Linked DNA regions of Homo sapiens: all the other regions are linked to region 2. Evidence: fine-mapped expression QTL. A gene starts in region 2. Each other region holds a variant in brackets. All regions are shown on one strand. Distances are from middle to middle.

Region 1 (8,183 bases), 150 kb after region 2:
GCTAAATAAAAGTGCTTTTAAAAAACAGAAATACACTATAAATATTTGTATTAAAAGAGGTGTTGAATTCAGTTTTTCTTAAGTTTAAAAGAACTTAAATGAATTACATCTTTAAAAAATGTTTTCTCACAAGAGACTTTTTTTTCCCCTAAAAGATATTTCTAGGGTTAAAAACAAAATGAGGGCCAGGCACGATGGCTCACGCCTGTAATCCCAGCACTTTGGGAGGCCAAGGCGGGCGGATCACCTGAGGTCAGGAGTTCAAGACCAGCCTGACCAACGTGGCAAAACCCCATCTCTACTAAAAATACAAAAATTAAGCAGGCAAGGTGGTGGGCACCTGTAGTCCCAGCTACTCGGGAGGCTGAGGCAGGAGAATTTCTTGAACTAAGGAGGCGGAGGTTGCAGTGAACCGAGATTGCACCATTGGACTCCAGCCTGGGCGAGAGAGCAATACTCCGCCTCAAAAAAAAAAGAGAGATTATGAGACACTTTAAGAGGTATGTGTGTTTTTTAAAACTATAGTTTGAATTTTTGAAGAAAAATGAAGAAATGAGAGAGGTTAAATAACTTACCTAAGATCACACAGCTAGTCTGTGGTGCAACTGGAATTTGAACTTAGATATATCTAATTTTTTCAGAATATTAATTTGCTTCCCTAAAGAGGCAAAGTTTCTCATTTTAAACAATCAGAAACTGGGGTCCAACGAGGGCAAATGATTTCCCTAAACTCATATTCTGATTCAGCAATAAAGTAATTTTGGTTGATTAGATCATTGTTCCTAACTATTCTTCCCTCCCTGTAATAAGAAATCTCCTATTGTCATTTTTGTTTGCCTAAGAATCTAAGAAGAGTATATATACCCACCATCTCACTGACTTTGGCCTTGGCTTGAGGACACGCTTTGGCTAACGGAATGTGAGCAGTCATGATATTTGCCATCTCTGTGTGGAAGCTTTAAATGAGATTGTGTTCCTGTTCTCTGCCATAAAACAGCAGGTCCCAGATAGGGGTGACACCTTTAGCCTGGGCCCTAGATGAGGGATACATACAGCTGAGCACAGCCAGCAGAGCTGTGGCTGGCTCACTTACAGCCCTTATAGAGCATGGACATGAAATAAATGTTTGCTGTGGTAACCTACCAAGATATTGGGGTTGTATTCACAGCGAAAGCTAACCACAATAATACAGCACAGTTTCGTGCAGAAATGTATTCTTCATTTTTCCCATTCTCAAGGTTGCCTCCAGTTGTGCAATAATTATGAGTTAAGGCCATGAGATAAATGGCTGTGTTAGTGGGCATTTTAATTTTAACTACTAAATACATAAGAAATAATTAGAGAAAGAGTTGGAAAGCATAAGGCACAAGAGGAAAAACCAGGTGTCAAAGGTTTAGATTTCCAAGGTCACCCTCTGATGAAAAGAAAACTGGTAGAAACCCACTTTGTTGACAGAGAAACAAGGGTGAGTCAAAGAATTGAGGTTTATTTCTTATTCTTCTGCTGCACACAGAACTGTTGGCATCAACTAAAATACACATTCACCCAGAAGCACCTTGTTCAGAAATGGAAGATGCTAAGGAAAAAAAAGGTAATAAATGCCAAATGAATCTCTGCCACCAAATCACCAATGACCTTGGGGAAGTCATTTTCCTTCTAGCATAAGTTTTCTCATTTGTAAAATGAAGAGGCTGAGCAAGAATCTCTCACTTTCCTTCTGGCTCCAAGGGTCTGTGATTTGATTGCATCTAACTCATTAATCCTAACTAACTTGAATAGGACCCAGTAGTATTGAGGCTGATCATAGGAATACATCAAAGTGTAGCCCAAAGAAGGTGATCTTGAGAATCAAATGAGGATAATCTAGAGAAGGTGCCTGCACACTGCAAAGGGCTCTCTTGTCGCTTTTCCATTGAAAAGATGTGGGCAAATATGCCCCTTATCCCCCAGTTTGCATTACCCTTGCAGCCTTCCCCCTCACTTTTAACATCCAGCAGTCTTTTAGGTTGTTCTATCTACCTCACCTTCTTAACCCAACAAAACTACATTCTCCTCTCAGCAAAAGAGAAAAATAACTCTAAAACAAAGAAATATGTGATTATAATACAAGAGACATACAAACAAAGTATGGGGGGAGGGTAAAGAAGGAGAGAAGAAATCAAGACTTCAGAGTTCAATAGATCTAGGTTGGATTCCCAATGTCTCTTATTGTTCATATATAAAATGGGGATGATATGGTTATTCTTAGAAAATAAATGATATACAAAATGTATAAGCCTATACTATGTGCTCATTTACAGCTGTGACAATGACAGAAGGCTTTCTGGAAGCAATGGCATGAACATCTGAAGGCCATATGGAATTCTGAGGGCTAGAGAATAAGAGGGGAGGGGTAAAAGTCCAATCAGAGGGGAGTTTGTGGGGGTGCAAGTGCAGGGATGGGTAGGAATGCAACAGGAGTGGCAATATGAATGTGGGCAGGCCAGAAGTCCTTCTGGGAGAGGAACAGGCATATTAGGATAAAAGTAAAGGTTTTAAGCAAAGGAATGTAGAGAGATGAGTCTGAATCTTTGAATACCAAACTGGGAAGTCTTACCCCTGTATGACTGGGAAGCCCTGAAAGCCTTTAGGCAATTATGCTTTAAAAAGTTGTGGCTGTGCTGGTGCATCTTGGGAAGGAAGCTGCATCTTACCAAGATGTAGGGAGGGAAAGGAGATAGCCTCCTCCCCATAGGAGAGTAGTTGTTGCACCTGCCTGAGATAGAAATCTGAGCTACAGGGGAAACACCAGATTGAAACTTGAATTAAAACAGATGTGATCTCAGTATAAAAAGTTCTTCAAAACCTTAAAAGTTCAGTTTTCTTCCCTTTAATCTCTTAAGAGAATCACTGCTTTTAAACCCAAGAAAGTAAAATTTCCAGGTAAGAAAATGAACCCAGAACTCTATTTGCTGACCAGATCTGAGTAAGATTGCTTTTCCTATTTGCATTTATTTCAACAATCTTAAATCTTACATCCTCGGTAGTTCTACCCTGGACCCAAAAGTTTGCTTCTGCCATCGGTTACACCGTTGCTACTCAAAATGGGGTCTCAGTTTGTTTGTGCTGCTATGATAAAATACCTGAGGCTGGGTGATTTATAAATAATATAAATTTATTTCTCACAGTTCTTGAGGTGGGAAGTCCAAGATCAAGGCACCAGCAGTTCAGTGTCTGGTGAGGACCTGGCATTTGCTTCCATGATGGGGCCTTGAAAGGTGTGTTCTCACATGGTGGAAGTAATGAAAGGGTGAAAGGGCAAAATGTTCTTGCTAGTTCCCTTTTATAAAGCACTGACCCCATCCATGAGGGAGGGGCCCTCATGATCTGATCACCTCCTAAAGGGCCCACCTCTCAATACAATTGCACTGGGGATTCAGTTTCAGCATATGGATTTTGGAGGGGCACATACGTTCAAATCATAGCAGGGTACTTGAACTGGCAATATCAGCATGCCCTGGCAGCTTGTCAGAAATGCAGATTCTCAGAACCTCACTCCAGACCTACTGATCAGAACTTGAATTTTAATAAGATATCCAAGTGTTTCCTGTGCATTAAAATTTGAGACGCACCAGGTTACACCATGCCCTCAGATTCCAGGAGGCCTCTACAACCAGAGACGTTCAGAGCTCGTATAACCTCTCCATTGAACAAATGAGAAACTGAGATCCAGAGTGAGAAAAGAACAGGGTTTTCTAAGGTTATACAACCAGTAAGCATAATTGGTACAGAATAGTTCATAATAGTAAAGTACAATTCTCTATAGCTAGCTGGAGATGAAGCACAGCGCACTGCAAGCCACCCTGATTCTGGAGTCAACTCTATGTATAAGGTTTACAACCCAATTGGGCCAAATTACTTCATCCCCCGAGCTTCATATTCCTCTTTTGAAAAAATGGGAAAAATAAGACTACTTTGATAAAGGTGTGAGCATTAAGTGAGATAATGTGTGTGAAATCCTTACCATGGTCTGGGTGCTCTGTCCCTAGTAATTACTGTCTAATTACCAGAGATGGGAGTAGAACCCAAAGCTTCAGAATCCTTAGTGTCTTTTCTCCTTCACAAAAGTCATAACCCAAGTCCTACTACAGGGCATAGTTTCCAACTTTAAAGGAGGCCTTTGCCTCTGCAGGATAAACAGCTCCTCTACATGCTCCCTGGGTCCTTCGTTCTTTCCTCTTGTGGCATTTAGACACACCTCCAACGGCTGGTTTCTTTTCTGCCTTTCCCACTAGAGTGAGTGTTGCTTCAGAGCAGGGACCATTTCTTTTATCTCTCTACCCCCAAAGCACATCATAGTAGATGTGTTGGCAGATGGAAGGAGTGAGGGATGGGGAGAGAGAAGAAAGAAAGGAAGAAAGGAGGGAGAAAAGGAGGGAGGGGGGAGCTGAGAAGATGCTGAGTGTTAGAAAGCAACCATTGCACAGCATGATGGATTCATTCAAAGAAATAGCTTGACAGAAGAGAATTCATCTTTTTATGACTGTGACAACACTAATATATTTATTTCCCTTCTGAAATTAACTTTCTAATATTAAAAAAGGTCAAAATGAACCGCAGCAAAATGAGACATTTTGTCATTTTTAACAAATTATACCAAAGCAGACTGTCAGATTAAAGGGGTCACTGTTTTGAGGTCTAAACACTGGTGCTGATTGCATAATCAGAGCTAATGCTTGTCAGTCTGCCCT[T/C]TTCCTGCCCACAAACCTCTAACAGTTGCCTTTGGCCAAAATGATGAAATTCAAATCTCTCAGTCTGGTATTCTGAGGTCCTTTAGAATCTGACCACTTTTCTTTTTTTAATCCATTCCTTCCCCAAAGGGACTCTCTAAACTATGCAGACCCGCCTCCTTCCTGCTATTCTCTTCCTACGTGCTTCTGTTCATGTGATGGCTCTTGTTTTAACTGCATCCCTCCTACCATATGCCCATGGGGATTCTCTCTACCTTTTTTCTGTCCTACGGGCTGGCCGTTGTTTCTCAGAATTTGACTTACTGTGGCCTTCCGTCTGCCACTTCTGCCTTGGGGCGGCCCTTGGGCCGGCCATGACCATGGCTTGGACCCTTGAGTACCCTCTGCTTCTCTTACACCTTGCTCTGCTCTACCCTTCATTCCCTCAGAGACATCTGGGAAAGGTATGGTGGTCTGAGAGGGGACCCGAGTCCAGGTGCTTTTTTAAAAAGGTAAAAGAGGGAAAAGCAAGAGATGAGACTCTACCTTGCCACTCCTGTTCCTCTCTGCCTCTGACTTATCAGTGGGTGTGCTCACCTCTGGGCCACCTAGAGTCAGAAGAACCGAGATTCAATACTGACTCTGTCTCTTGGGAAAGTTACTTAATAACTTTAGGTCTTAGTTTCCCCATCTGTAAAACAAAACAATAGGCCAGCCATGGTAGCTCACACCTGTAATCCTAGCACTTTGGAAGGCTGAGATGGGAAGATCGCTTGAGCTTAGGAGTTTGAGACCAGCCCAGGCAAGATAGTGGGACCTTGTCTCTTAAAACAAAACGAAACAAAACAATAATCCCTGTCTCACAACGTTGCAATAAAGGGTCAAGTGAATGCTTGTATGTGAATGTGCTCTGAAAACTATACATCTCTGTGACAAATTAGTGAAAATAGTTATGACAAGACCCACGTGCTAGTGATTCATCCCCGGGGCCTGGAGTGCATGTGCTCCAAGTTTGGTAGAAATCCTGGGAACCTGAGTTTGATTAACAATTCTATAGTACTACAGTCCCACTGTGTGACCTGGAGCAAGCCATTGCCCTGCCCTGGGCTGAAGTGTTCTCTCTATATGAAGGGTTAGTTTGGAGCACCTCTTTAGTTCATCCAGCTCTGAAGTTTTCTGGCTCCACATAGGGCAAAATGATCTCTGAGATCCTAGAAGGCCAGAATTACATTATTAATCCAAGGTCAAAAGTAGCCAAGTTGGGGATGTGTACATCCTCAGGCTATGGCAACAACCTGTGGAGGAACAGGAGACATCCTAAGGTCAAAACCTCTTGCCTGTGTTAGTATTAGCCAGCCCCTCTTAAGATCCCAGATCCTAATTTACCTAGCATGCTCAATCTTTGGAGTTCATTCTGGACTTTTCGAACCAACGTTTCTTACAGTGGTCGGGGGAGGAGTGGGGTGCCCAAGGTAATGGAATAAATCTATTTATAATATCATGTTAACCAAAAGATAATGGGGGTAATTCTGAATTTTTGTGCTTAAAAGATGTCATTATACCAAGAAAAAAAAAAACGGGAAATCAATAGAATTTCTCCTTTCTAGGTTGGCTGCTTCCATGCATTTTAAAGCTAAAACAAGAGACTCTGAGAAACAAGGGGCCTCTGGCTGCTGCTGGGCCCCTGGTGAGCATGCCCACCCTGCTCTGCACTAGGGTCGTGGGCCTTGGGATCAGGCAGATCTGGCTTCCACTTCAAGTCCTTTGACTACCAGTTGTGTGACCTTGCAGGTTTCAACTGCTTTTCATTTGTTCTGCCATTCATCTGGCATTTTACTGATGTATTAGGCGCTATGCTCTGTGCAAGAGAGTGCAGAGGTGACGGAAACAAGAGTTTCATCCCTCAGGGAGTCCACATTTGAGGAGAGAAAACAAGCACGTAAACAGATTAGTGTGGTGTGGAGTCATAAATGTGTGCAGCAGGAGAGATTACGGTTAGGGGAGGGACATTCACGCCGAGCCTTAGTTTTCTCACCTTAGAAATGGGGATAATAATGCTCATTTCTAGAGGTTGTTATATGGACTAGATGAAACAGTGCCTGGCACTTAATGGATGCTTAACAAATATCAGCATTTTCCCCCTTCCGCTCTGCAGGGTCCTGAAGCCCTGCTTTCATTCACCCCACCCATGCCAGGAGGCCGAGTCACATAGCAAAGATGACTAATAAAGATTCGCCTTAGCAGTTGGAGGCTTTTTCAAGGTTATAGCCTGGAGCTAAACTCTAAGAGGAAAGAAGTTTTCCTCTTGTAACTGGGAGCCTGAGTAAGTCAATCCTCCCGACTGCTGAGTCTGCATAGGTGGTGCCAGGAGTTTAAAGCAAAGCTTTGCCCTTGAAGTGCCCTGTAGGATCAGCCGGTGGGGGCTGCTGTGTACAGTGGCCTTAGCTGCCAATCAGCGTACAAACTCCGCCTCCAGCCTCTGTGAGAGAAGCCCCGCCCCAAGCCTCTCCTGGTGTCTGGAATCGCCCTTGGGGGATCTAGAGTATCGCATTTACTGATAATTCATTCTAGAAGCATCCTGGCTGTCGTCAGCCCTTAGGGATTATGGTGAATTGCCCCCAAAACACACATGCACACATACCCAAACTCTCGGAATGAAGGAAATCGGCTTGCCCTCCGAAGGTTAAACCGTAAAATCCACTCGGAATGAATTGAAACCGACAAATGCAGGAAACCCTATGAAAGAAAAGCTTCTGGAACTGGGCTGATTGTAACCCAATTAAAGATATTAGCACAGCTGTAAAAAGACTTTGCAAAGATGGGGATGGGGAGTGGCCAGAGCATTTGAGCTAATGGCTCAAACTTGCTTCTAATCTGTCCTTATTTATTTACGTATTTAAATATTTTTTAAGAGACAGGGTCTCACTCTGTCTCCCAGGCTGAAGTTCAGTGGCATGATCATAGTTCACTGTAGCCTCAAACAATCCCCACTGAGCTCAAGCAATCCTCCTGCCTAAGCCTCCCTAGTATCTAGGACTACAGGTGCGCACCATCATGCTCGGCTTTTAAAATTTTTTTTGTAGAGATGGAGGCTCTCTCTGTCTTGAACTCCTGGCCTCAAGCAATCCTCCTGCTTGGGTCTCCCAAAGTGCTGGGATTATAGGCAAGAGCCACCATGCCTGGCCCAGTCTGTCTTTTAAAACCTACTTGCATTGCTATTTCAATAACCAGAGCTACAGCTGTTTTTAAAATGCTTAAGTTTAAAGATGGTGATAATTGGTGATAATGAAATATTATTCAGAAGATTCCTTTGTGAAATCAACATTGAAATAGTAGCTATTGTATATTACTAGGTTTGAGCTGATAATAAATGCTAACATTTATTGAGTGCTTACAATTTACCAGCCTTACAAAAGACCACACTATATAAGTGCTTAGTGGGTTTTTGTGTGTGTATGTGGTGTTTTTTTAATC
Region 2 (8,183 bases):
CTAGTTTCCAGTTTATAGTAATTGGGAAAAAACTGAATGTCACCACAAAAAGAAGAAAAAATCAGGCAATAATACAACATGAACTATTCTGTAACCGAGCCAAGTATGTTCAAAAGGTAATGTCCACAAAAAGATTTTTACAAGAATGAATATTCATAATAGTATTATCCAATAATAACCATAACCTGGCAACAACCCAAACAACCATCAACAAGAGAATGGATAGCATCAGAGTAAAAAGCTTCTACACAGCAAAGGAAACCACTAACAGTAAACATACAGAATGGAGAAAATCTGATAAGCGGTTAATATCCAAAATATGTAAGGACCCAAACTCAATAGCAAGAAAACAAAAAACCTAATTTTAAAAATGGGCAAGAGGTCTGACTAGATATCTCAAATGGCCAACAGGTGTATGAAAAGGTGCTTACCATCTCTAATCATCAGGGAAATGCAAATCAAAAATATAATAAGATATGCCCTCGCACATGTTAGAACGACTACTATAATAAATTCAAAAAATTGTAAGTGTTGGAAAGAATGTGGAGAAAGGGGAACCCTTGTACACCGTTGGTAGAAATGTAAATTAGAAGAGCCATTACAAAAAGCATATTTCCTCAAATAATTTAAAAAAAGAAAAATTTCCTCAAATAATTAAAAAATAGAACTACCATATAATCCAGCAATCTCACTTCTGGGTATGTATCCAAAGGAAATTAGTATATGGAAGAGATCTGCACTCTCATATTCATTGCTGCATTATTCACCATACTCATGATATGGAAGCAACCTAAGTGTCCATCAACGAATGAATGGATAAAGAAAATGTGGTAGGTGTGTGTGTGAGGGGGTGTGTGTGTACACTATTCCGATTTCTATCACTATGGATTACTTTGCCAGTACTTAAACTTCACATTGGAGCCACATAGTATGTGATATTTAGTATCTGACTTCTTTTGCTCAGCATGTTCTTGAGATTCATCCATGTTGTTGGTTCTATCAGTAGTACCTTTGAATTGTGGAGTAGTATTCTATTGTATGTGTATACTACAATATATTTATCCATTCTTTTTTGTCAAAACTTACATATATTTACACTGTACAAAGTGATGTTTTGCTACAGGTATGTACACTGTGAAATGATTAATTCAAGCTAATTAACATTTCCATCATCTCCTATACTTATTTCTCTCTGGAAAGCAGTTCTGTCTGGAATGGACCTGAAAGGGGAACAAGGGAATTGCGAGGGGTGATGGAAGTGTTCCAAATCTTGATCTGGGTGATGGTGACATGAGTGTATGAATTGACCAAAACCAACTGAGGAAAAAAAAGGAACATTGTGGGAATAAAAAAAAAATAGAACTGCTCTATATTAAAATGAACTACAAAGACCTATCAATCAAATGATTAAAGGTAATATATAAACCTTGACTGGATCCCGGTTTGAAAAAGTTAACTATGGAACTCATGTTTGGGACAACCAGAAAAACTTGAATATGAACTAAATATTAAGAATTTCTCACCAATTATCTTAGGTGTAATAATGGTGTTGGGGTTATACAGAACAATCTCCTTATTTTTTAATTTTATTTACGTATGTATTTATTTAAGAGACAGGGTCTCACTGTGTTGCCCAGGCTGGAGTGCAGGGCTACTCACAGGTGTGCTCACAGCATACTACAGCTTCAAACTCCTGGGCTCAGGTAATCCTCCTGCCTCAGTCCCCTGAGTAGCTGGAACTACAGGTGCCTGTCATCATACCCAGCTAATATCCTTATTTTTAGAAGACACATGCTGAAGTACTTACAGGTGGAGTATCATTATGTCAATTTATTTTCAATTTTTAGCAAAAAAATAAAAAATTTATACATAAACATACACATACATATAGACAAATCAAATTAATGTACATGGTCATGGGTTACAGTTATTCATTGAACTATTCTTCTAAGTACTCTGTATGTTTGAAAAATTTCATTTAAAAAGTTGGGGAGAAAGATGCCAGTTTTAATAGATACAGAGTGATCTCCAGGACATACTGAACGAAGAAAAGCAAAGGTACAGAATAGTTTATACGCTACCTATTTCATAAAAACAAATATCTATTTATATATATATATATATATATATATATGTTGTGTGGTATGTGAGAGAGAGTTTGTGTATCTGTTTATATCAAAACCAGTGAAAATGGTTAAAGCAGATGAGTATAGGTGGGAAATAGTTTTGAGCCTGGAAGCAACACTTCTCTGAGTATATCATGTTATAGTCTTGAACTTGAACCATGTAAATGTAAAAAGGAAATAGACAAGAAAGGAACTAAAATCAAAATGAAGATGTTAAAAATATCTAGGGTCATATAACCTTTCTATTCAATCAAAGCCAAATTAATCAATCAATCAAACATGTTTAACTTTTACGTCTGCTAGTGGGGTTTTTTTTGTGGGGGGGGCGGTCAGGGGCGTTGTTTGTTTGCTCCTTCTGAGCATCAGAGCCATTTTAAAAGGCTTTTGTTGTTCAAAAATTCGGGAACATTTTGCACATCTGCTTCTAAACAGTTGTGCAATCCTAGATAAATAATAGCCATGCTGAGCATCGATTTTCTTGGCTGTAAAAAGGGATTGAATCCAATGATTTCCATCTAAGATGTCTCGGAACTATAAAATTCTGTGACTTAAATGTTTGTTGGGGAAAAATATTATTTCCACCATCATAGTTTTCTTTAGCTCTGATAAGTAACAAAGCTCCGTTATACAGTGAATTACACAGTCATTCACTTTTCTGCAATACAACTAATACTCAGGAGAAATGTAGCTATTCCTCCGACTCCTTCAAGCAGTAATCAGTTACAACAGAGTACTTCCTCTTAGAAAGTTTGTATTGGCAACGTTAGGGAAGCTGCAGCCAGCCAGTCAGGCAGCTGCGCTCACCAGACTGCTAAACACCATTAGTTGGCAGGAGGAGGAAGAAGCCAGTAACAAAATCTATTAAGGCTGAACTCTGAAGGAGTTTCACTAACTTGTGTCCTGGGCCAAGGGATCGAGAAAGTTTCGTGCATTCTTCTTGCTAAACTAATTTTACTTTACAAAAAGTTGTCAAAAATGGCAGCTTTGGGAGGAAAACAAGCAAAGCTAGGGCTATGGAGTTTCCGAGAAAAATCTCTGCAGGCTTGAAGATAAAGGGAGAGTCCAAGAAAATTTCTACTTCACCACCACTGCCTCACACTCTGCCCCACGCACACTTGCCTTCTTTAAGACCTAACAAAAGACCTAAAACAGTCCTGTGATTTTCCTAGGGGTTTAAGTTCTGTGCTGCAGCAACCTCATTCTAACGTGACGAAGGCCAGCCAGGAAAGGCGGGAAGCTGCAAGCACGGGTTAAGTGGAGCCTGGCCAGTAGGGTGTACAGGAAGGAAATGCAGAGGGCTCCTGGCTGCAGCACCCAGGAGAGTAATGGTAATATTTCAGCACTCTCAACCCCCAAGTTTTCCTAGGAGATCAAACAGAAGGCAATATACATAAGAAGACTTACTGAGTAAGAAGGAGCGAAGAGACCGAATGGTGAATTTTGGTTCCAAACTCCGTACAGGTCTGTGCCTGCAGGACTAAAACGGGGTGTGGAAAGGGTCTTGTGGAGATTTCCTCCAGAACAGACAAGCGGGAGTATTCCTCTAAACAGGGGAATGAGAGGGTTCTCTAAAGAATGCAGGGGAAGAAGTTCAAAACCCTTGGAAGTCTTCTGAGATCAACAAGGGGAATAGAGTTTTCTCCTAGCATGGAGAGGTCCAGCCCCTTCACTGGATGAGTGGGGTTCTCTGCCCCAGCTGGACTTCCACAGGAGGATGGAGGAAAGCATCCTCTTGAGCAAGTCTGGAGAGTGAAGGGGTGGGGTTGCAAGGTTGGAGAAGGAGGTGTTTCCCTCATAAAAATGACTGGGCCTTTCTTGCAATGGCTGGCACAAAGTCGGAAGGGTCTGGGGACGGGAGGGGCCTGAAGTGATTTCTGAGGAGTTGGGTTTTTCCTGTAAGGCCCTGGGAGGGAAGGCAAGGTACTTTGCGCAATGACACATTTCAGTTGTTGGATGTGAAGATTCTCCTTCGAAGACAGAATAAAGAAAGGCCCCTTCATTAATGCGGGTTTGAAACTGGTCTGAAATGGTGTGCCTGCAGGGATTCGGGAGGAAATGCGACGCCCACCCCCAGACTTGGGAAAGGCGGGGGCAATAATTCTCTAAGAGAACTGGAGCCCGAAAGAGGAATGAAAAGCCCCCGCGCCGCGCACATACACTCTCTCTCACTGGAAAGTTAGGAGCGAGGAAAGAACTCTGAAGTGATTTGGGAACGATCTGAAAGCGCGCAAGTTGGAAGTCGGGTTGAAGCCAGCATAGCGGAGCAGGGGTCAGGCCTCTGCGTGGCCGGAGTGGGAGAGCGCTTCTGAGAACAAGATGGGGCAGGACCGAAGGGGCGTGAGGTCGACGCTCCCTAGGGATGATTCGGAGGGTGAAGGAGGTTTGGGGGTGGTTCCGGGCTCTCGGAGGTGACTGAGGGAGTCCCTGAGCCAATGCCCGGGGGTGGGAGGCGCTACCGGTACTCACTGAGCTGATCTCCAGCGCCAGGGCGCACTGCAGCGCCTTCACCTTCGGCATCCGTGCGGGGAGGGGCGGCGGGGAGTGACCCCGGCCACGGGCCCGAGTGAGGCGGGGAGACCTGGGGCTGGGCGGGGACGGGGAGGAGACGAGGTGGCGGCGGCGGTGGCAGCAGTGGCCCCCAGGCCGGGGCCCGCGGTCCAGCCTGGGTTCCGCCGGAGAAGCAGCTGAGCGCGGGGCGCAGACTCGTTGTCATGGCAGCCAGGAGGGGCGGGGCCGGAAGAGAGGCCGCGCGGGGCACTCCAGGGCTACCCGCGCTGGGACGAGCGCTGGAGGCGGAGCTTGACGAACGCCGAGCGAGGCGGAGTCGGGCAGGGGGCGGGGCTTCCGAAGGGGCGGGGTGAGGCAAGGCAGCTCTTCTGTGACGTCAAACTGCGCCCAAAGCCGGACGAAAGGGAGCTGCTGTTTGTATAATGGGACGGTGCTCTGTTCAGGGAGTTGGAGTTCCTGTAAGGCCGTCGGAGGGAACCCCTGAGTTACAACGTGGTGATGGCACCTTGGGCTAGTGGCGACCCACTGTGGCCTCAGTTTTCCCAATTGTAAAAGAATAATAATTATTGTTAGTCCTCCTATTTAAATTTCACGGCACGGTTTACAAAGCCAGCATAAGGATACTGGGAATTAGGGAAGAGACTTGCCCAAATCAAAGTCGGAACCAGGACTGGAACCCAGGAGCTCTCAAGTTAAACCCCAGTTGCCTCCCTGAGGAGAGGGGCTTGCATCAGATGGTCCATACTCCTAGTCTCCTATTCTGTGATTCCCTTTGTTAGCGCGTTCCCTTTTCCCTTCAAATTTTCCTGTCTAATTCACCCATGTATGCGTCTTAATGCATATTGCTTAAGTGGAACTGTCAATGAGGTGCCAACAATAAGTCCAGCTGTGAAGGGCCTGACAATAGACCATCAAAGATAAAAAGAACCTAAGAGATTGCCCAATCCAATCATGTTAAAAATCATTTGTATTGCAAAATACATTATACATGCAGAAGTGTATAAAACACGTTTATCTTAATAATAATGTGAACAGTACCTGTACAACTAGCACCCGGTTAAGAAATAAAACATTACCAGCACCTGAAAAATGCCCCCAACGATTACATTGCCTTTCTCGCCCTGGAGTAACCACTACCCTGACTTTTGTACAATAATTCTCTTCCTTTTGCCATTCATGTATGCATTTCTAAACAAGATATTGTTTAATGTTTTCCGGTATTGATAGTATATAAATGGTATTAATACTGTATGTATTCTTCTGTGATTTGCTTCTCCCACTTAATATTATGCCACCGGTGATGCTGTGTAGCTGAAGTTTTTTCCATTGCTGGACAGTATTCCAATATAGATTGATTTATCCTTCCTACTATCAATGATCACTTACACTGTTTTCATTTTTAGCTATTATTAACAATGTTGTGAACATTGTAGTACAAGTCTGTGTCTATTAATGCACATGTACTAGCGTAGGAGTGGGTTAGCTGGGTATTAGGGTTTTGCACATGTGGGTCTTTAAAAAGTAAGACCACACCATTTTCCAAAGTAGTGTACCTATTTATGTTTCTGGTGCTTATGTATAAGAGTTCTTATTTTTCCACATCATCAGCAACATTTGTGTTTGGATTTTTAACTTTTGTATATTTGGATGTGTGTATTTTAGGTATTTCATTGTGGTTTTATCTTGAATCTCTGGGTACTGTTGAGGTTGAGTACCTTTGGTTTTGTTAGCCTTTCCATTATCTCTTATTGAACTGCCAAGTAGTTATCTTGCCCCCTTTTCTGTTGGTCTCTCTCTCAGTTCTTTATATACTCTGGATAATAATTATATGTCTACTCTATATGTTGCAAATATCCTTTCCACTTTGTGTTTGTATTTTAATTTTACATATAGTCTGTGATGAACAGAAGATAAATTGTTGTCATGGAGTATGAGTATTCTCAGTTTGACCATATAATTCCAAGTTGCTATCCAGAATGCCATACCAGTCTATGCTCCCAATATTCGAAGGTTACTATGGCCCCACATTCTTCCCAGGCTTGGCATTATCAAGGGTTCTTGTTTTCCCCCAACATAACAGATGTAAAGTGTTATCTCACTATTGAATTTTTCAGATTACTGATGAGTCTGAGCATGTCTGTATATGCTTATAAGATTTTCTATCTTTACTAAAAATCATCTGCTCATAATGCTTTACCCCATATTCTATCAGGATTTTTGTCTTTTTTTTAGGAATTTTGTGTATTCTGGTTAGTTAATAAATTAATTCTAAGACACTACAAAAATCTTCTCTCTTTATGGTATTTTTATGAACTTTGCCCAGGATTTTGTTTTGTTTTGGGGTTTTTTGGGTGTTTTTTGTTTTGTTTTGTTTTTGACAGGGTTTTACCCGTCACCCAGGCTCTGGAGTGCACTAGCACAATCTCGGCCCACAGCAACCTCTGCTTACCCAGTGATATGGTTTGGCTGTGTCCCCACCCAAATCTCATCTTGAATTGTACTCCCATAATTCCCATGTGTTGTGGGAGGGACCTGGTGGGAAATAATTTGAGTCTTGGGGGTGGTTTCCCCCATACTGTTCTCATGGTAGTGAATAAGTCTCACAAGATCTGATGGTTTTATCAGGGGTTTCCGCTTTTGTATCTTCTTGTTTTCTCTTTCTGCCACATGTAAGAAGTGCCTTTTGCCTCCTGGCATGATTCCGAGGCCTCCCCTCCCTGTGGAACTGCAAGTCCAATTAAACCTTTTTTCCTTTCCAGTCTTGGGTGTGTCTTTATCAGCAACATGAAAATGAGCTAATACAGTAAATTGGTATCAGTAGAGTGGGTGTTGCTGAAAAGATATCCGAAAATGTGGAAGCGACTTTGGAACTGGGTAACAGGGAGAGGTTGGAACAATTTGGAGGGCTCAGAAGACAGGAAAATGTGGGAAACTTTGGAACTTCCTAGGGACTTGTTGAATGGCTTTGGCCAAAAGCCTGATAGCCACATGGACAATAAGGTCCAGGCTGAAGTGGTCTTAGGTGGAGATGAGGAACTTATTGGCAACTGAAGCAAAAGTGACTCTTGTTATGTTTTAGCAAAGAGACTGGGGGCATTTGGCCCCTGCCCTAGACATTTGTGGAACTTTGAACTTGAGAGAGGTGATTTAGGGTATCTGGCAGAAAAAAATTCTAAGCAACAAATCATTCAAGATGTGACTTGGGTGCTGTTAAAGGCATTCAGTATTATAAGGGAAGAATAGCATAAAAGTTTGGAAAATTTGCAGCCTGATAATGCGATAGAAATGGAAAACCCATTTTCTGAGGAGAAATTCAAGTTGGCTGCAGAAATTTGCACAAGTAATGGGGAGCCAAATGTTAATCCCCCAGACCATGGAAAAAATGTCTCCAGGCCATGTCAGAGGGCTTCACGGCAGCCTCTCCCATCACAGGCCCCGAGGCCTAGGAGAAAATGGTGTCATGCGCTAGGCCCAGGGTCCCCATGCTGTGTGCAGCCTAGGGACTTGGTGCCCTGCGTCCCAGCTGCTCCAGCCATGGCTGTAAGGGGC
Region 3 (8,183 bases), 280 kb before region 2:
AAGAAGGGGGATTAATTGAATAATGCTCCTCACCCCAGCCAGGAAAGATGGAATGGCCATAGACTGGTACTGGAAGAGAGAGATTGCCAGGGGCTATGTAGATGTCAGGGGATAGATAGCCTGTGATACAAGTCCTAGACCAGTTAGTGAGGAGGCATTGGTGAAAGGATTGGCCACAAATAGAGAAGGCTCCTTGGGTTTTAAACCAAGTAGAAATGTCAAAACAGAATAGAAGTTTGACTTGTTCCAGCATAGGTAAGGGGCATGGCTAACTCCTTTTGTCCCCAGTCCTTACATATAATTTAATGGCTTTAAAACAGGCAAATTGTACAGTTAAGAGTCACAGTAGCAGTTTATGAAGGATTTATTAGGCCTAATAGCCTGTAAAATTGTGCATTTTTATAAATTTCTTTTCACAATTCTTTTCATGACTTACATAGACCATCTACAACATGCTTAAGCTTTCTGACATATCCTAAACATCCCTCTTTTTAAATGACTAGTCATTTTACTTAAGGACAAGAATTTACCATACAATATCCTTTTTTAGACAAAATATTTTCTTTATAACCTTCCTTACCAAGAAAAATACCTCTTTATAACTTCTGAATTAGACAAAAGTCATTTTCCCTTTGTTGGGAAGTTATGTTTGTACTATGTGTTGCTGTGTGAGTCTTGTGACAGGGGAGTAGATAAAGAGGTTATCTATGTATGTATAAGTTATCCTCCCTCAAGAGATTGCTTGGTTAGATTTCCCTAGGGCTTGTCCAAATAAGTATGGACTATTCTAAACCACTAAGGTAAGACTGTCCAGGTTGAACTTATTGGTTAAATATTTTTGTAGCTTACCCCAGGAGAAATAGGGCTATTAGAAAGAAAGGTGAATTTAGAGGTTGAGTAAATATTAAGCAGGCACTCATTTTGGAAAGTATATTTTTGCCCCAAAGAGGTATTGAGTATTTAGACATTACCAGGGACTCGTGGAAGAATTGTAATTGGTCCCTTAAGTTATATAAAGGGGTGTGGATCTTTTCTTTTGGAGAGAGGAGGTGTCATTTGCCCCCATTACCCAACAGGATTTGTGGGAGAGTTGTTCAGAGAAGGAGATTAGTGAAGTAGGCAGCTCTTGGACCTAAGAGGGATTTATAATTTTACTTTTCAACTCCAGAGTTGCCCTTGGCTTCATCTTGTTGATGATGATGTCTCATTTGTAAGCCAATCAGAGTAGTGAGCCTCTTCAGCTCAAGACCACCATGATGGGTTGGGATTCTGTCCCAGGGGCCCTTTGGAACCCAGGGAAGTCCCATTACCAGTGGCCAAGCTTGTGACAGAGGAAGCAAGCTGTGCAGGGCTTTTTCCCATTTATCCTATTGGGACAGTTTGCCTTCCAGTGCCCTGGCTTCCCACACTGATGGCAGGAACCTGGGAGTATATTCTGACGACAACCTGGGGGGAGGCTGCAGGGCTTGTAGAGCAGCCAATAGTTGAGCCTGCCTCTTGTTCTTGCATTTTCCCTTTTCCTTACCCCTGTCCTCCTTATTCCACTGTCAATTAGAAAAGACTGAGGAGGCTAATTTGAGGTTTTCCTGCATGAGGCACTGGGTTCTAAGCTGACTTTTGTAATTGCCTCCCCTTTGTTAAGGATGGATCTGAGGGGCATGTCCTGTGGTATAGAGATGCAATTACCCATCTGTGAAAAGGGAACAGAAAATAAAAAAGGAAAGAATGTGTCTCCTCTTATTTCCCTATTATCCTTTCCTGAACAGGTCATCGCCCATTTGTCCATAGGGTTCTGGAATGAACCAGTCTCACCAGGTACCCTTAACCTTGGTCTTGGTCTCATCTCATCACAATTACCCTCTTGAGAACAGAGGAGATACTAGGGTAAACACAGGGATCCTATTCATTTCCAGGGTTCTGAAATTAACCAGTCTTATGGGTACCCCTAACCTTGCCTTCCTCTCTGTTCTATTGGTAATCTGCCCTGGGGTCAGCCTTCATCTCTCTGTCCTATGGGCACGTCTGTCTCTTGCATCTGCAGCCTTGGGCTGGCCTATATCCTTGTCTCCATGACCTTATAGTGACTCTAGCTTGGGGCATTCTGGCAACAAAATGATTATCTCTTTTCTTATAATCACATTTCCCCATGCTTTTTAAATATATGAGAAGCCTATTTTTTAGCTAATTTCTGCAAGAGGGCTGGACTTACCTCCCTTCAAATATGACCTTAAAAGTCTTGAGGTATACTAAGAAGGGCATGAAGATGATTAGAGGAATGGAGGAAATTTTGTATTTTGGGTTCCTCATCCTCCCAGGGTAATGTGCAGAAAAAATACTTGAGCAGACAGGACCATCCTATTACTATAGGAGGAAGCTGGAGGAAGAAGGGGGATACTCAAGGAAAGGCTTCATGTGCTTGCAAAAACGACAGCCCTTGGATTTGAGATGGCAACATTTATTTGCCCTTTTGACATAAATGAGAAATTCTGCAAGATGTGGGGCTTGGGATAAGGGCTCACAAATGCAAAGGAAGAATTTTCCCTCCTACCAAATGGGTGCTAACTCATAAAAAGCAAGTAGATGGGGTCCTTAAAGGGCCATAGAGGGAAGCCCTCTGCAGGTGAACAAATTGCTTCAAGAGCCACTGAAAAACTTGGCTATGGAGCATAACAGGGACAAAAAACATAGGGTAAGTCATAAGAAGCTGGCAGAGCCATGGTTCTAATTACTGTCTGTCCCAGCAATAAGCCAAAAGACATCCACAGGGGAGCCTGTTTCCTTGCAGCTGCACAAATGCAGCAAGAGCCACAGGTGTATGAATAATAGGGAGTGTGTGTTTAAGGCAGAGAAGGAAGTCTTATGGCATGTGAAGTGAAAGCAGAGAAGAGACATACTTGCCTTTGAGACAGACTGTCCAGTGGGTGTGCAAGGCCATTTCAGAATACACACCGAGAAAACAGGAGAGTAGGCAGTGTGGGTTTTGCGGAAAGACCTCATTTTCATTTCAAACGCAGAGGAAGCCCCAGACATGGCACCATCCTAGGCTTTAGCCCTACCACTCTCTCGAGCCTCCTGTCCAGAAGGGCTATTAGTGGCTCAGATCTGTTTGATGTGGACTTCAAGGTCTTTTCCACCTCCACAAGCCACTCATCAGTGTGAGATGAGAGATCAGCTGTGGGGAGCAGAGCCACTGTT[A/T]GCCCCAAGGGAAGAATCAGGGGAGGAATCATTCTGGGCGTTGCTTAGTAAGCAGGAGAGCAAAAGGGGAGAAGGAAACCACATAAGGAGGTTGAATACCTCCAGCCCAAGAAGGAAAGGCATAGAGGTATCTTACCACTAGGGAACGTATGTGAGTCATGGCACTGAAGTATGTTAGCAGTGGCAAAGACATACAAGTCAGCAGCAACTCGATTCTTGCCTCCTTGAAGGAAATAATTCACCCAAGGATTATAGGCAGAATGAAAGACCAGAGCAGGAGTGAAAGTTTATGAAAAATTATTGGAGCAGCAGTGAAAGCAAGTAAAGTACATTTGGAAGAGGGCCAAGCAGGTGATTGGAGATATCCAAGTGTGCTGTTTGACCTTTGACTTGAGGCTTTATCTGTTGGCATGCTTCCAGGTTTTTCATCTCTTCTACCCCAATTCTTCCCTTGGGGTAGACTGTCTGTATGTGCAGTGACCTGCTAGCACTTGGAAGTGGCCACATGTGCAGTGTGTTTACTGAAGTTGTGCACCTGCTCATCTGAGGTATTTTTCATTTTTCCCCCGCCAGTCGAGTGGTGACCAATTACTACTTTAGAGAGAAAATTTAACATCCCCCATGACTATCATCTGATGGTCACTTGACAATTCTGGCAGACTTAAATGTAAGGCTCAAACTATAAAAATTCTGGAAGACAACATAGGTGATACCATCCTCGAAATAGGAACGGGCAGAGATTCACCTCTCCCTCTCCCTCTCCCTCTCCCTCTCCCTGTCCCTCTCCCTCTCCCCACGGTCTCCCTCTCTTTCCACGGTCTCCCTCTCATGCGGAGCCGAAGCTGGACAGTACTGCTGCCATCTCGGCTCACTGCAACCTCCCTGCCTGATTCTCCTGCCTCAGCCTGCCGAGTGCCTGCCATTGCAGGCACACGCCGCCACGCCTGACTGGTTTTGGTGGAGACGGGGTTTCGCTGTGTTGGCCGGGCTGGTCTCCAGCCCCTAACCGCGAGTGATCCGCCAGCCTCGGCCTCTCGAGGTGCCGCGATTGCAGACGGAGTCTCATTCACTCAGTGCTCAATGGTGCCCAGGCTGGAGTGCAGTGGCGTGATCTCGGCTCGCTACAACCTACACCTCCCAGCCGCCTGCCTTGGCCTCCCAAAGTGCCGAGATTGCAGCCTCTGCCCGGCCACCACCCCGTCTGGGAAGTGAGGAGTGTCTCTGCCTGGCCGCCCATCGTCTGGGATGTGAGGAGCCCCTCTGCCTGGCTGCCTAGTCTGGAAAGTGAGGAGCGTCTCCGCCCGGCCGCCATCCCATCTAGGAAGTGAGGAGCGCCTCTTCCCGGCCGCCATCACATCTAGGAGGTGAGGAGCGTCTCTGCCCGGCCGCCCATCGTCTGAGATGTGGGGAGCGCCTCTGCCCCGCCGCCCCATCTGGGATGTGAGGAGCGCCTCTGCCCGGCCGCGACCCCGTCTGGGAGGTGAGGAGCGTCTCTGCCCGGCCGCCCCGTCTGAGAAGTGAGGAGACCCTCTGCCTGGCAACCACCCCGTCTGAGAAGTGAGGAGCCCCTCTGCCCGGGGGCCACCCCATCTGGGAAGTGAGGAGCGTCTCCGCCCGGCAGCCACCCCATCTGGGAACTGAGGAGCGTCTCCGCCCGGCAGCCACCCCGTCTGGGAGGGAGGTGGGGGGGGTCAGCCCCCCGCCCGGCCAGCCGCCCCGTCCGGGAGGGAGGTGTGGGGGGTCAGCCCCCCCGCCCAGCCAGCCGCCCCGTCCGGGAGGTGAGGGGTGCCTCTGCCCGGCCGCCCCTACTGGGAAGTGAGGAGCCCCTCTGCCCAGCCAGCCGCCCCGTCGGGGAGGGAGGTGGGGGGGTCAGCCCCCCGCCCGGCCAGCCGCCCCGTCCGGGAGGGAGGTGGGGGGGTCAGCCCCCCGCCCGGCCAGCCACCCTGTCTGGGAGGTGAGGGGCGCCTCTGCCCGGCCGCCCCTACTGGGAAGTGAGGAGCCCCTCTGCCCGGCCAGCCGCCCTGTCCTGGAGGGAGGTGGGGGGGTCAGCCCCCTGCCCGGCCAGCCACCCCGTCCGGGAGGTGAGGGGCGCCTCTGCCCGGCAGCCCCTACTGGGAAGTGAGGAGCCCCTCTGCCCGGCCACCACCCCGTCTGGGAGGTGTGCCCAACAGCTCATTGAGAACGGGCCAGGATGACAATGGCGGCTTTGTGGAATAGAAAGGCGGGAAAGGTGGGGAAAAGATTGAGAAATCGGATGGTTGCCGTGTCTGTGTAGAAAGAAGTAGACATGGGAGACTTTTCATTTTGTTCTGCACTAAGAAAAATTCTTCTGCCTTGGAAAAAAAAAAAAAAAAAAAAGGAACAGGCAAAGATTTTATGACAAAGACACCAAAAGCAATCACAACAAAAGCAGACATTAACAAATGGGATCTAATTAAACTTAAGAGTTTCTGCACAGCAAAAGAAACTATCAATAGAATAAATAGCCTACAGAAGAGGAGAAAATATCTGCAAACTATGCATCCAACAAAGGTCTAATATCCTGCATCTATAAGGAGCTTAAACAAATTTACAAGAAAAAAAATAAGCAACCCCATTAAAAAGTAAGCAAAAGACATAAACAGACATTTTTCAAAAGATGACAAACACACATAGCCAACAAGCTTATGAAAAAAGAAGCTCAATATCACTGATCATTAGAGAAGTGCAAAGCAAAACCACAGTGAGATACCATCTTACACCAGTCAGAATGGCTATAAAGGTCAAAAAATAATAGGTGCTAGAGAGGTAGTGGGGAAAAGGGAATACTTATACATTGTTGGTGGGAATGCAAATTAGTTCAACCAATGTGGAAAGCAGTATGGTGATTTCTCAAAGAGCTGAAACAGAACTACCATCTGACCCAGCAGTCTCATTACTAGATATATACATGGAGGAATATGAATCATTCTACCATAAAGATACATGCATGCAAATGTTCATTGCAGCACTGTTCACAACAGCAAAGACGTGGAATCAACCTAAATGCCCATCAATGACAGATTGGATGAAGAAAATGTGGTACGTATATACCATGGAATGCTATGCAGTCATAAAAAAGAACAAGATCATGTGCTTTGTGGGAACATGAGCTGTTGTGGGAGCTGGGGCTATTATCCTTAGCAAACTAACACAGAAACAGAAAAAATAATATCGAATGTGCTCACTTATAAGTGGAAGTTAAATGATGAAAACTCATGAACACAAAGAAGGGAACAACAGACACTGGGGTCTGTTCGAGGGTGAAGGGTGGGGAGGAGGAAGAGGAGCAGAAAAGATAACTATATGTGTACTAGGTTTAATACCTGGGTGATGAAATAATCTGTACAACAAACCCCTGTTACACGAGTTTACCTACATAACAAACCGGCACCTAAAATAGAAGTTAAAAAAAAAAAAACTTGAAGTCAAAGAAAAAAAAACTGCCTTTGTAGATGATATGATTCTTTCTACAGAAAATCCCAAGGAATCTCAAAACGAACAAACAAAACCCTCGTGAAATTGATAAGTAGTTATAGAAAGGTTTAGGATACCAAAGTCAATTGCTTTCAGTTGTATCTTTGCAATTTCCTGTGAATGTATAATTATTTCAAAACAAAAAAAAAAGTCTTAAATGGAAAAATGACCTACTCTCATAAACCACAAATATATGTAATCTTGCTTGGGCTTGATAAATAAATGGTGATAACTTACAAAATGACAAGAAGAATTACTGTTCTCTTTTGGATTTATTGATGGGAGGTAAGCCGAGGAATCCACCAAAAACCTCTGGAAATGAAATAATTTATTTTAATATTAACTTATACTGAATCATGCACACAACTGTAGCCTCACCTTTCAAATAATATTAGTATTAACATTTTGGTATATTTCCATCCAGTATTGTGTGTGTGCTAAAAATTGAAGAATTCCAAAACTTTACCGTTCATGAGAATTACCTGCAGGGTTTTTTTAAAGACAAACCACTGGCAACACTCCAGAGTGTCTGACTCAGTAGCTCTAGGTGGAGTGCAAGAACTTGCTAACAAGTTCCCACGTAGTGCTGATAATATTGATACAGGGAACACATTTTTGGAATGCTTGACAAACACTATAATTCTATTCTCTTTTTTTACACTCCAGAATACATTATGAACCTGTTTTATTGTTGGTCTTCAAAAACATAATTTTAATAGATTTACAGGTTTCCAGTGTATTTCTGTCCCATCATTTATTTTTAAATTTGTATATTTTGTTGGAGCTCCAAAGGGGCAAAAATTATAGCTCCCCTTTTCTTTCAGTCTAAGTTTTGAATTAATTGAGAAAATAAAACTATATAGTAAAGCAGGAGATCAAAATATTACTTTTATTAAAGAACAAAACTCTGATATTGGGAAGTGTGTGCAGTATCTATGAGCAAGTCAGCTTCTGAATACTAAATCCAGGAATTAAGCAAACCTTCCCATTCCAGCACTGGAATTCTTGCACCACCAGGGATTCTCCCTGATGGCATATGCCCAAAGGCAGTTGGGGGCACACGGTCTGTGTGGGTTGCTTGACTCCCAAGAGAAGAATCCGTGGCTATCCCCATCAATAATAGGAAAACAGCAACCTTTCAGTACAGCTCTATTCCGCTTTCACGAGGCTATTCCACAGCACCATGGTTTAACACGGTTTAAAGTCACATGAGATACGACAGGTGAAAGAGCTAAGGACAAGCCACGCCAAAATATGCCGCTTTGACATATTAATTATTTCCAGCTGATGACACTTGAGAAACAGCAGATGCAGGAAGAGTCATCTAACGGCTCCTTTTCTACTGAAAACAAGCCACAGAATTTTCCATGAGAAAGATTCCCTCCCTGTGCCAGGAAGAGAAGAATACCCTTATCACCAGAGACTGGGAATCAATGCCGAAATGGATCTGTACAAACAAACATACTAAAATAACCCTTATCTTCCACTAGTTT

What was found. PIP is the estimated chance that this variant, and not a neighbour inherited with it, causes the effect.
Region 1: its variant is fine-mapped to the expression of SPATA6 in whole blood (TOPMed, PIP 0.96).
Region 3: its variant is fine-mapped to the expression of SPATA6 in whole blood (INTERVAL, PIP 0.99).

Annotation. Positions count from the first base shown.
Region 1 is chr1:48,612,669-48,620,851 of GRCh38, forward strand. All of the region lies in intron 9 of AGBL4 (AGBL carboxypeptidase 4), which reads right to left. Among named protein-coding and RNA genes, the nearest start is that of SPATA6, 140 kb to the left of the region's middle. The variant T/C (reference allele first, on the strand shown) is at 4,731.
Region 2 is chr1:48,467,366-48,475,548 of GRCh38, forward strand. It overlaps SPATA6 (spermatogenesis associated 6), which reads right to left and starts at 4,839. Exons shown (of 13, transcript NM_019073.4): 1 at 4,593-4,839. The coding sequence starts at 4,643. LOC124904175 (a long non-coding RNA gene) reads left to right here and starts at 3,005. Exons shown (of 2, transcript XR_007066074.1): 1 at 3,005-3,587. RefSeq lists a silencer at 4,521-4,910 and an enhancer at 5,121-5,170.
Region 3 is chr1:48,187,772-48,195,954 of GRCh38, forward strand. No RefSeq gene overlaps it. Among named protein-coding and RNA genes, the nearest start is that of SLC5A9, 31 kb to the right of the region's middle. The variant A/T (reference allele first, on the strand shown) is at 3,196.